Regions from separate parts of the Homo sapiens genome. Here region 1 is linked to region 2. Evidence: fine-mapped expression QTL. A gene starts in region 2. The other region holds a variant in brackets. All regions are shown on one strand. Distances are from middle to middle.

What was found. PIP is the estimated chance that this variant, and not a neighbour inherited with it, causes the effect. A credible set is the group of variants that fine-mapping cannot tell apart.
Region 1: its variant is the best candidate, but not a certain one, in a credible set for the expression of TOLLIP in whole blood (INTERVAL, PIP 0.53).

Annotation. Positions count from the first base shown.
Region 1 is chr11:1,080,391-1,085,693 of GRCh38, reverse strand. It overlaps MUC2 (mucin 2, oligomeric mucus/gel-forming), which reads right to left. Exons shown (of 58, transcript NM_002457.5): 7 at 3,907-4,032; 8 at 3,292-3,409; 9 at 3,075-3,213; 10 at 2,706-2,816; 11 at 2,548-2,617; 12 at 2,132-2,269; 13 at 1,877-2,041; 14 at 1,309-1,403; 15 at 976-1,102; 16 at 371-626; 17 at 88-140. Among named protein-coding and RNA genes, the nearest start is that of MUC2, 8.2 kb to the right of the region's middle. The variant G/A (reference allele first, on the strand shown) is at 2,600.
Region 2 is chr11:1,306,873-1,312,236 of GRCh38, reverse strand. TOLLIP (toll interacting protein) reads left to right here and starts at 2,605. Exons shown (of 6, transcript NM_019009.4): 1 at 2,605-2,771. The coding sequence starts at 2,739. TOLLIP-DT (TOLLIP divergent transcript) reads right to left here and starts at 2,529. Exons shown (of 1, transcript NR_029409.1): 1 at 1,530-2,529. RefSeq lists silencers at 785-914, 2,440-3,149 and an enhancer at 1,448-2,209.

The DNA.
Region 1 (5,303 bases), 230 kb after region 2:
CAGGCCCGGGAGGGGTGGCCGGGGAGGGTGGCCAGGGCAGGCAGGGAGGGGTGGCTGGGGAGGGGTGGCCGGGGCAGTGCCACTTACTCTGGCCGATCAGCCGGATCTGCCTACAGTGCAGCCGCCCATCCCGGCACACACTGTGGAAAAGGCCAGGGATGAGCGGGGCCCATGCAGGACGGCCACAGACAGCCAGCAGCTTCCCCGCAGATGTGAGCCTGATGCCTCTCAGCGCCCCCCACCCCAGGCACCCCTCAGCCTTGGGTGTCTCAGCTTCCCCAGGTAGAGACTCCCAGGTCTCCGCTTGGGGCAGGTTCAGAAGGAGTTCCCCCGCCCCCACGCCACACCTGACCCCCGAGCAGGTACCCACCATCGTTCTTCCTGCCTGACGACCACGTCCCCCGCCTCCAGGTAGAGACCGCGGTGGTAACAGGAGCACTTGGCCAGGGGTACGCAGCGGCCCTTCTCGTCCAGGAAGGTGTGGTCAGGGCAGCCGCAGCCGTCCACAGGCGCAAAGCCCTCGAGACAGTGGCTGTCGGCCTCGGAGAGGGAGCGGCAGGTCTGCTGGCAGGTGGTCAGGTTGTACAGGAAGACCTGCGAGTTGGGGCAGGAGCCCACATCCTTGTCTGCAGAGGACCACGGGGTGGTGTGAGGGACGGGAAGAGCCAGACGCCCAGCTCCCATCCCCAGGGTGGCCAGGGGGCCAGGGAGTGCACACTCTGGGACCCACTCCCACACTCGGCCGCCACAGCTCCAGGCCCACCCCAGGTTCTGCCCCTGCTACGTGGCCGCCCCTTGCTATAGGAGTTGCTGGTTTCCTGCTACCACCGGCCGACGAAGCTGGAGCCTGGTCCGTGGCTGCAGGGGGCCAACCCCTCTCCCTGGACCACCCGTGCTCAGGGCCCCCAGCCCCGTCCCAGGAGCTCAAAGCCCGGACCCCATCCCCAGGATGCAGCCCACGGGGACGGCACTCACTGCAGACATGCTCCCGCCAGCCCCACAGCATGACGCCCTTGGCGGTGCAGGCGCGCGCGTAGGAGGACAGGGCGGCGCACAGGCAGTCCTCATTGTTCTGACAGTTACACGTGTCATATTTGCACCTCTGGGCGACAGAGCAAGGTGGACGGGCAGTGAGGCAGGGAGGCAGAGTGTGGCCTGGCGCTCACAGACGCAAGCTCACACGCACACACAGCAACCAGTGGGCCCAACCGGGTGCTCTGAGTCCACCTCACGGGTGGCATGGGGGGCTGGGGGTGCCCTGAGTCCACCTTGATGGCATGGGGGCCTGGGGGTGTGGGTCCCACCCACCTTGTAATACTCAGCAGGGTCCACAGCCGAGTGGCACCTGCCAAAGGGGGTCTCTGTCTTCTTCAGGAGGGAGCACCAGTGCTCGGCGTAGTTGGCTGGGGAGTGGGGGATCGGAACTTCAGCGGGGCCCGGGACCCCCGTGAGATCCCCTGGGCCCTGCTGCCTGGCTGCCTAGGCCCCAGATATGGTTCCCTCTGTGCACCGATGCCCAGGCCCCTTCCTCCCCGTGAGTCAAATTTCCAGGCAGCTCCTGGCTAGATAGAAACCCCTGCAGGGCACCCACCACCTCCCGTCTCTCACCCCCAAGGGCCCAGCATCCTGGACATGACGGGGCAGGTAGGGACCAGCCCAGGCCCTCTTCCAGGTCACCTGGCAGGCTGCCACCATGGCCGCCATAAACTAGCCACAGCAGGAAGCAGCAGGGGCCGGGCTGCCCCTGGAGGAGAGCCACCTCACTTCTGCCCCTCACCACCCATGCTTCCTGCTGGGAGCCCCGTCTGCCCTTCCAGGCCATGGGCCGGGTACCCTAGGCACGCTAGGTGGGGGCGCCCGTGTTGCCGAGCCTCACCGCTCTCGATGTTCAGGGAGCAGGGATCGTCCAACCAGTCCAGCTTGTCATGGCAGGTTGACTGTGCCTTCCAGGTGTTGGCAAAGCCGGCCCCCGTGGCCTCCACCAGCCCGCTGGCCGTCTTGAAGTCGTCACCTTCCAGGCCGTTGAAGTTCCCGCAGAGGCCTGAGGGGCCAGGACAGGGTTGGGAAGAGTCTGGGGCTAGCAGGCCCCCCTGTGGGCCTTTGTTGGGGCAACCCCGGTGGGGCCACTTACCCTGCACCTGCCCCTGGGAGGCCTGGTCCAGTGTCACAAAGAGTTGCATGACTGGGGCCAGCTGCACCTGCAGCCGGACGCCAATGGCCATGCTCACCATGATGTGGTAGGAAGACGGGCGGAAGACAGAGAAGCTCGCTGTGGGCAGGGGCACGATGAGGGACACGGTAAGGGGCATGGCGAGGGGCGGGGCTCCCGGGACCTGCCTGGCCCAGGTGAGCAGCGGGAGGGTGTCACCCTCCCACCACCCCCTCCAGCAGAGGACCCAGGACGGAGCCTGCTGGGTGCCGCAGGGACCCTCCCCCCGTGGAACCTTCCCACCCAGCCTCCTGGGTCCGAGGTGGCTGGACTGTCCGAATCACTGCAGGCCCAGTGGAGCTCGAAGGGCCCGGGCCCCTCCCTGGGGCGCAACTCACCGGTCACGTGGGGCAGGTTCACCTGCAGCTCGTTGAGCAGTACACTGCCATC[G/A]GACTTGAAGACCACCACCTGCAGGGAAGGCCGAGGTTGCTCAGGGCTGAGAAGGGCCCCCCTCGGGGGACCTGGGGCTCCAGAAGGAGGGGGCAGGACCACTCACATTCTTCTTCTTGTCAGCCAGCAGCACCACCGTCTTCAGGCAGGTCTGCTTGTCTGTGGAGCCACAGGGGGCCAGCTCGCCCAGGAGAGCGTAGGAATCGTTGTGGTCACCCTGTGATGGGGCAAGAGGCAGTGCAGCTGCTGAGGGCCGGGACGGGCAGCACCCTGCACCCTAGGACCCGGCAGTGGCTTAGAAAGGAAGGCCTGCTTCTTATTCTCCAGCCAGAGAGCAGAAGCATGGTCACCTGCCCCAGGACAGCCCACAGGCACCCTCTGCTTCAGGGACAGCCAGCCCACCCACCCCGGGACAGCCAAGGGCCTGGATGCCAGCCCCAGCTCTGCCCCATGCCCCAGACCCTGGGCAGCCTACCTTGGCCAGGACATAGTAGCAGTCCCCGTGGAAGGTGTACGTCTTCCCATCGAAGGTGGTGATGTGGGAGCCGCCTTCCAGGGCACAGGTGCCGGGGCAGGGCAGGTCTTTGCACACCCAGCGGCCAGCGTTACAGACACTGTTGGGCAGCGGGGCACAGGGTCAGGGCTCAGCCGCCCCAGCCTCTGCTGTGCCCAGCCCTGGCCCCGGGACTCACCACTGCTCGCAGTCATTGGTGATCTCCTGGCCCGGTGTGTACAGGTGTCCGTGCAGCCTGCAGTGGCACTGGCTCACAGGAACGCAGCCACTGTCCCCGATGTCGTCATATACGGTGCCTGGGACAGCCAGGGAGGCGATGTCACCCCGGCTGGCTCAGAAAGAGCCAGAATCCCCACCGAGGGGCTGCCAGCCAGGCCTCCCACCCGCAGGCACCACTGGTCCCCTGTGCTGACGCCTGCGGTCCCCACCTGGTCCCTGGGTTGGGGTCTGGCCATGGGGGTCCAGCCTCCAGGCCACCTTCCTGCCCCTGACAATCGAGCTGCTCCCAAAGGCCTCAGGCACCAGGCCAGGGGCCGGGCAGGAGGAGGTCTGTCCCCAGGGTGATAACCAGGAAGGCAGCCCCCTTCCCGGCCTCCCTGAAGCCACCCTTTGGGAAGGGCCTCACACCGAGGCCCCTTCTCCCCCGGTATCGGGTGGAGGGAGAGGCACTTCTGTGCCGCCGCTGCCCCCACCACCCAGCGGAGCCGTCCCCTCAGCGCAGGCGAGAACCCCAGGCCAGGGCTGCCTCTCATCTGGTGGGCAGTGCCAGGGCGGGGCCATCCTCCACACGCACCTTCTGGGCAGAAACAGCCGTCCATGCGGTGCTCCTCGCACAGGCTGCTCACCTCCAGGTGTGAGCAGGTGTCCATGCAGGGCGAGCCGCTCTCCAGGTACACCAGGTTCCCGGGGCAGGTCTTGGCTGGAACCGCAGAGGCCACGCAGTGAGGGTGAGGCTGGGGCACAGCAGCCGCTCCACCCCGAAGTGCACCGAGAAGGGCTCTCAGCCCACGGTGAGTGTCCCCCCAGCTCCCGGTGCCCGGCGCGGTGAGTGTCCCCCCAGCTCCCGGTGCCCGTGGTGAGTGTCCCCCCAGCTCCCGGTGCCCGTGGTGAGTGTCCCCCCAGCTCCCGGTGCCCGGCACGGTGAGTGTCCCCCCAGCTCCCGGTGCCCGTGGTGAGTGTCCCCCCAGCTCCCGGTGCCCGTGGTGAGTGTCCCCCCAGCTCCCGGTGCCCTCAGTGAGTGTCCCCCCAGCTCCCGGTGCCCGTCACGGTGAGTGTCCCCCCAGCTCCCGGTGCCCGTGGTGAGTGTCCCCCCAGCTCCCGGTGCCCGGCACAGTGAGTGTCCCCCCAGCTCTCGGTGCCCGTGGTGAGTGTCCCCCCAGCTCCCGGTGCCCTCAGTGAGTGTCCCCCCAGCTCCCGGTGCCCGGCACGGTGAGTGTCCCCCCAGCTCCCGGTGCCCGTGGTGAGTGTCCCCCCAGCTCCCGGTGCCCGTCACGGTGAGTGTCCCCCCAGCTCCCGGTGCCCGTGGTGAGTGTCCCCCCAGCTCCCGGTGCCCGGCACAGTGAGTGTCCCCCCAGCTCTCGGTGCCCGTGGTGAGTGTCCCCCCAGCTCCCGGTGCCCTCAGTGAGTGTCCCCCCAGCTCCCGGTGCCCGGCACGGTGAGTGTCCCCCCAGCTCCCGGTGCCCGTGGTGAGTGTCCCCCCAGCTCCCGGTGCCCGTGGTGAGTGTCCCCCCAGCTCCCGGTGCCCGTGGTGAGTGTCCCCCCAGCTCCCGGTGCCCGTCACGGTGAGTGTCCCCCCAGCTCCCGGTGCCCGTGGTGAGTGTCCCCCCAGCTCCCAGTGCCCGTGGTGAGTGTCCCCCCAGCTCCCAGTGCCCGCGGTGAGTGTCCCCCCAGCTCCCGGTGCCCGTGGTGAGTGTCCCCCCAGCTCCCGGTGCCCGTGGTGAGTGTCCCCCCAGCTCCCGGTGCCCGTGGTGAGTGTCCCCCCAGCTCCCGGTGCCCGTCACGGTGAGTGTCCCCCCAGCTCCCGGTGCCCGTGGTGAGTGTCCCCCCAGCTCCCAGTGCCCGTGGTGAGTGTCCCCCCAGCTCCCAGTGCCCGTGGTGAGTGTCCCCCCAGCTCCCGGTGCCCGGCGCGGTGAGTGTCCCCCCAGCTCCCGGTGCCCGTGGTGAGTGTCCCCCCAGCTCCCGGTGCCCTCA
Region 2 (5,364 bases):
TCTCCTTTTTTCTTCTGGAATTCTAATAATGCTTAAGTCAGATCACGTGGCTGTAAGCTTAGTGGCTTAAAACAACACACACTTATCTCAGAGTTTTTGTGGGGTAGGAGTTCAGGCACAGCTTAGCTGGCTTATTCTTGGGTCTTACGAGGCTATAATTAAGTTGTCAGCTGGGTTGCATTCTCATCTGGAGGCTTGACTGGGGAAGGATCAAAGCCCCCTCAGATTCCTGGCAGAATTTGTTTCCTTGAAGTTGTAGGAATTATGGCACCTCGCCTCTTCAAAGCCAGCAGCTGAGAGACCCTTGAGAATAAGTCTGAGAGCAAGATGGAGTCTTTTATAACATCAGGTAATCATGGGAGGGACATCCCATCACCACTGCCATATTCTGTTGTTTAAAAGCAAGCCACAGGCTCTGTCCACCCTCAAGACAAGAGGATTATTCAAGGATGTGAACACCAGGAGGCAGGGATCATATGTCTACCTTACAACCTGTCCACCCCATAGGGGAATAATATTAAGGCAAGAGCTGAATCTAGTGTTTAGCGGAGGTCCTGGTGGGAGATACAGATTTTAGGATCATCAGCATATGGATGGCATTTAAAGGAATGGAACTGGATGAGCTCACTGAGGATGTAGATAGAAAAGATGTGCAAGGACTGAGCCCTGAGGTAAGGCACTCCGATGTTAAGGAGTCAAAGTGTTACCAGTGTGCCCTGGCATCTTGTAATCTCCCAGGATAGAAATAAAGAGAGATCAGCAGACATAGCAGCGAGGAGAAAGAGAAATCTTTATTTAGCTTGTGCACAAGGAAGTCAGCACCATGAAAGGAAAACGGTGGGGGGCCCCGCCGCCAGGGGGTGGCACGTGGGTTAGTTTCACAGGGAAGGGATTGGTCCAGGCATGGATAGGAGGGGTTTGTCTAGTGCTTCTCAGTAGCTTTGCATGCTTCTTCATGCATTGCATGCAACATTCACATTTTAAATCTCTACCCCTAGGTGTGATTTTTAGCGTGAAAATGAGGAAGGGGTAACAATAGTTGAAGTATAAGTCTAACTGCACATGTGGGGCCCGGGGAAGTCCCTAGGCCCCCAAAGCAGGAACTTGTGGTTAATAGCTTCTTGGGTCTTGTGCTGTGGATTGGCTGGATGTTAAGCTACAACTTGAGGAAGGGGCTTTCGTTCTTTTTCTCTACACCCCATCAAAACAGGCAAGCGGCCAGGCTGCCGGTTTTAAAAGGAGAGACTGGTAACCGAGACCCAAAGATGTGGTCTTTGGGATAAGAGGAAAGTGAGAGCACATGGTGTCCTGGATGGGGAGTGAAGAAAGCATGTGTAGCAAGAATGACTATCGATTTTGCTGTAGTTCCCGGAGGACGAGGACTGAGAACTGACCACTAACAATATAGAGATCACTGACAAAGAGTTTTTAGTGGAGTGGTTGTGTTACCGGAAAAGGGTCCTGATCCAGACCCCAAAAGAGGATTCGTGGATCTTGTGGAAGAAAGAATTCCAGGCCAGTCCACAGAGTAAAGTGAAAGCAAGTTTATTAAGGCAGTGAAGGAATAAAAGAATGGCTACTCCATAGAGCAGGGTGTTCCCAAAAGCACGAGGAGGAAGGCGTCCACCTGGGTACGCTTGTTTATATGTAAGATAAAAGCCAAAAAACATCACGGGGGAGACGTGCTGTACTACCTGGGCTCGTCAAAGGATTGCCAATCTTTGCATAACGCCTGTCCTCCGCAAGCATCTGTATCATTATCTTTAAAGCGAAACTTCAACTAAGAATGCTTCTTGTTCTTAAGATACCCGGACATCGGGACCTAAGTTCCGGGTCTGCTGCGTAAAAGTTTATTAACCTGTTCCCGTGACCGTAAACGCCCGACTCCTGGGGATGCAGCCAGCGGGGTTCAGCCTCAGTTTACCCAGCGCTGTTCGAGCTGGAGTCGCTCTGGTTGGAGCGCCTGACCGCGAGGGCCGAGGTCAGGCCGGACTGGGGTTCTCCGGAGCGAGCAGGAGAGGAGCGGGGCTCCTGCGGAGCGGCGCGGCGGGGAGGCCGAGGGCAGGGCGGGCTCGAGCTCGGGCTCTTCTGGCAGCGCCTCCATCCCCGTTCCGTTCACCCGGCAGCCGCCCCGTGGAGGAACCGCGCCCCATCTTTAGCCCTGTGAAACAGAAAGGCCCTTCCTCCGGCAGGCAGCTGAGGGAAAGATCGCCCTGCAGGGGATGTCGGGCCTGTCACTGCTTTGTTGCGGGCCACAGTTCCCTCCCTTCTCCGAGCGGGTCGCACGTCCGAAGGTCACCCCCGCCAGGTGGCTAGGCCCTGTCGCCACTCGACAGAGGACCGAGGAGGAACCAACCCACTGCCCAGACTGCAGCGCCGCCACGCTAGGGCCCGCGCCGACAACCGTCATGACTGGGCATGCGCAAACGGCCCCGCCGGGAGCCATTTCGCCGGGCTGCAGGGCTCGAGGAGAGAGCAGGTGCGCAGGCGCCGGGCGAGAGGCTGCGCCTGCCCTACCCTGGAGCGCGCGTGCGCGCGAGAGCCGGAAGGGGCGGTGCCTGGCGCGGCGCCTGCGCAGTGGGGCGGTGCCGGGGGCGGGGCGCGGCGGCTGTCAGCTGACTGTGGCGGCGGCGGCCTCGAGGTGACAACTGTCTCCGTCGCAGGCTCCGGCGGGGGCGCAGGAGGTCGCCCGGCGCGTCACTGTCGGGTCGGCGAGCCACGGGGGCCGCCGCAGCACCATGGCGACCACCGTCAGCACTCAGCGCGGGCCGGTGAGGCAGCCGGGCGAGGGTCGGGCGGGGGCGGTGACCTGCGGTTGCGGGCGGGGCCTTGGGTCAGGGCTACTGCTCAGCTGCGGCTGGCGGGCCGACTCCGCGGCTCTCCCGGGGCACGCGGGGCGCCTGGCCGGCCGGAGGGGAGCGGCGGCGTCCACACCTCGGGGCGGGGCGGGCCGGACGGACGCGCCCACGCTGCAGGAGGCTTGAGCTCACCGCCGTGCCGGGGCAGAGCTTTGGGGAGGCAGCCCCGGGGGAGGGGGCCTGCGCCCGTTGTGAGCCCCAGATGGAGGCGGGCCCCGTGCCCCATGGTGCCCCAGAGGGAGGCAGGCCCCGCTCCCCAATGGTCTCCAGATGGAGGAGGGCCCGGTGCCCAGATGGAGGCGGCCCCGAGCTCTGACTCCCGAATGGAGGAGGGCCCCGCACCCTAATGGTCCCCCAGGTGGAGGCGGGCCCTGAACCCTAATGGTCCCCTAGATGGATGCGGGCCCTGCTCCCTGATGGCCCCCCAGGTGGAGGCGGGTCCCGCACCCTGATGGCACCCTAGATGGAGGCGGGCCCCGCACCCTGATGGCCCCCCCAGGTGGAGGCGGGTCCCGCACCCTGATGGCCCCCCAGGTGGAGGCGGGCCTGCACTCTAGTTGGTCCCATAGATGATGGCTGTTTCCTCTTTCTCATTTACACAGAGTGAGGGCAGTGGTGACCACTTCTTGGGCCCAATTGTGTCCCCGGTTAGTGGCCACCGTGCAAAACCTCAGTTTCTTCATTTGCAAATGAGAGGATAGGCGCCAGGAACTTCAGAGAACCTTTCCTGCTCTGAATTCTCTCCTGAGAGTTGCCTGGCAGTTTCTTCTATAGCATTAATATTGCAGGAGAGCTGGTGTAGACTGACTCAGAGATGATGGGCTCCTGGCGTGAGTGGCCTCCTGGCTCACTGTTAGGGCCTTCTTGCATTGCTGTAAAGGAATACCGAGACTGGGTAATTTGTAAGAAAAGAGATTTAATTGGCTCCCGGTTCTGCAGGCTGTACAGGTAGCATGGTGCCGGCATCTGCTCCTGGGGAGGCCTCTGGAAGCTCCCAGTCATGGCGGAAGGCCAAGTGGGAGCTTACACGTCACATGGCGAAAGCAGCAAGAGAGTTGGGGGTGGGGAGGTGCCACACACTGTAATGACCAGATCTTGTGAGAACTCACTATCACCGGGACAGCACCAAGCCACGAGGGATCTGTCCCTGTGACCCACACACCCACCCTGCCAGGCCCCACCTCCAACATTGGGGATCATAATTCAGCGTGAGATTTGGCGGGGACACAGATTCAAACCGTGTCACTCACTGAGGCTGGGCTGGGGCAGGCTGTCGTGAGCGGTACAGTTTTTATCAACAGTGGCTCTGAACATGCCGTGGGTGGAAAAAGTCCTTTTTCACGATGCTCCAAGGTCCCTGCCCTCGCGCAGCCCAGTACTGGACGTGGTGGAGGGGTCACCAGGGCTCCCCACCCTTAACACTGTATCCACAAGTCCTGGTGTTTCTCCCGAGGAGATAATTCTTCAGGTAGAACATTTTTTCTGAGTTTAGAATGAAGCCCCAGGTTTTGGGCATAGCTGCTTTTTCTGAGGACTTTGAAGGAAACCTCCTGACACTTATGAGACTCAGGTGTGGAGCCTACGGGTCGGCAGAGGTCCTGGACGGCCTCTGATGGCAGCGTCTCTACCTCTTCATCTTTACTCCACCACAGTGAGTCCCCGCAAGTTGCCGTGGCAGCCAAGTGCTCCTTTCTGCCTAACAGGAGACTCAGAGCAACAAGGGAACCAGCACCCTGCTGTTGTGTCCTCCTGGAGAGCAGGGGGGCATGGTGGCCAGGCAGGATGGCCCCTTCCTTGCTGTGTGGTCTGGGAGACATCCTCTGCCTCCTGGGAACTTGTTCCTCATCTGGAACCCCACTGGGGTGTAGGACTGATTTTGAATGCATCAGGTGCTGAGCAGGCAGGGAGCAGTGGGAGGCAGGCCCTTCCTGTTCTGAGGGGCACCGGCGTGCAGCGCTGTTACACCCGCGATGAGGAAGTGGGAGCGGCAGGAGATGTTCTCACACGCAGGGCCTGTGCTGGCAAGTGCTGAGGTGTCGTTAGAATCTCCTCTTGCCCAGTGCCTCCTGGGCTGTTTCCATCATGTAGACGAGCAGGTATTTCAGGGGCACCCCCGTTGACCGGTAAACGCATAGTAACATGAGGTCTGGCTCGGAGCTGCCAGGGTCTCTTAAGAAGGTGTTGTCAGCGACGGGGGTCTCAGGTGTTGCTTGGAGTACATGTGACTTAATCAACCAGCGCTACCAACTGTGGCGTTCAGGATGGCCATGATGCAGGGGACAACCAGGTGGTTCCTGCCACTGGGGTCTTCCAGGGCAGCACGGTAGACATGGCAGCACATAAGGACAGCTGAGCTGTGTGGTGACGGCCCGGTGGGTCTGTGATCTTAAGCGTCAGGTGCTGGGAGAGTTTGTAAATGGGCCTCACCAGGGCTGGGTGTTGGGGTGAGGACGTGACATCTCTCGGAGGAGGAATGGGAGTAGGGGTTGGGCTGGGAGGGCAGGGC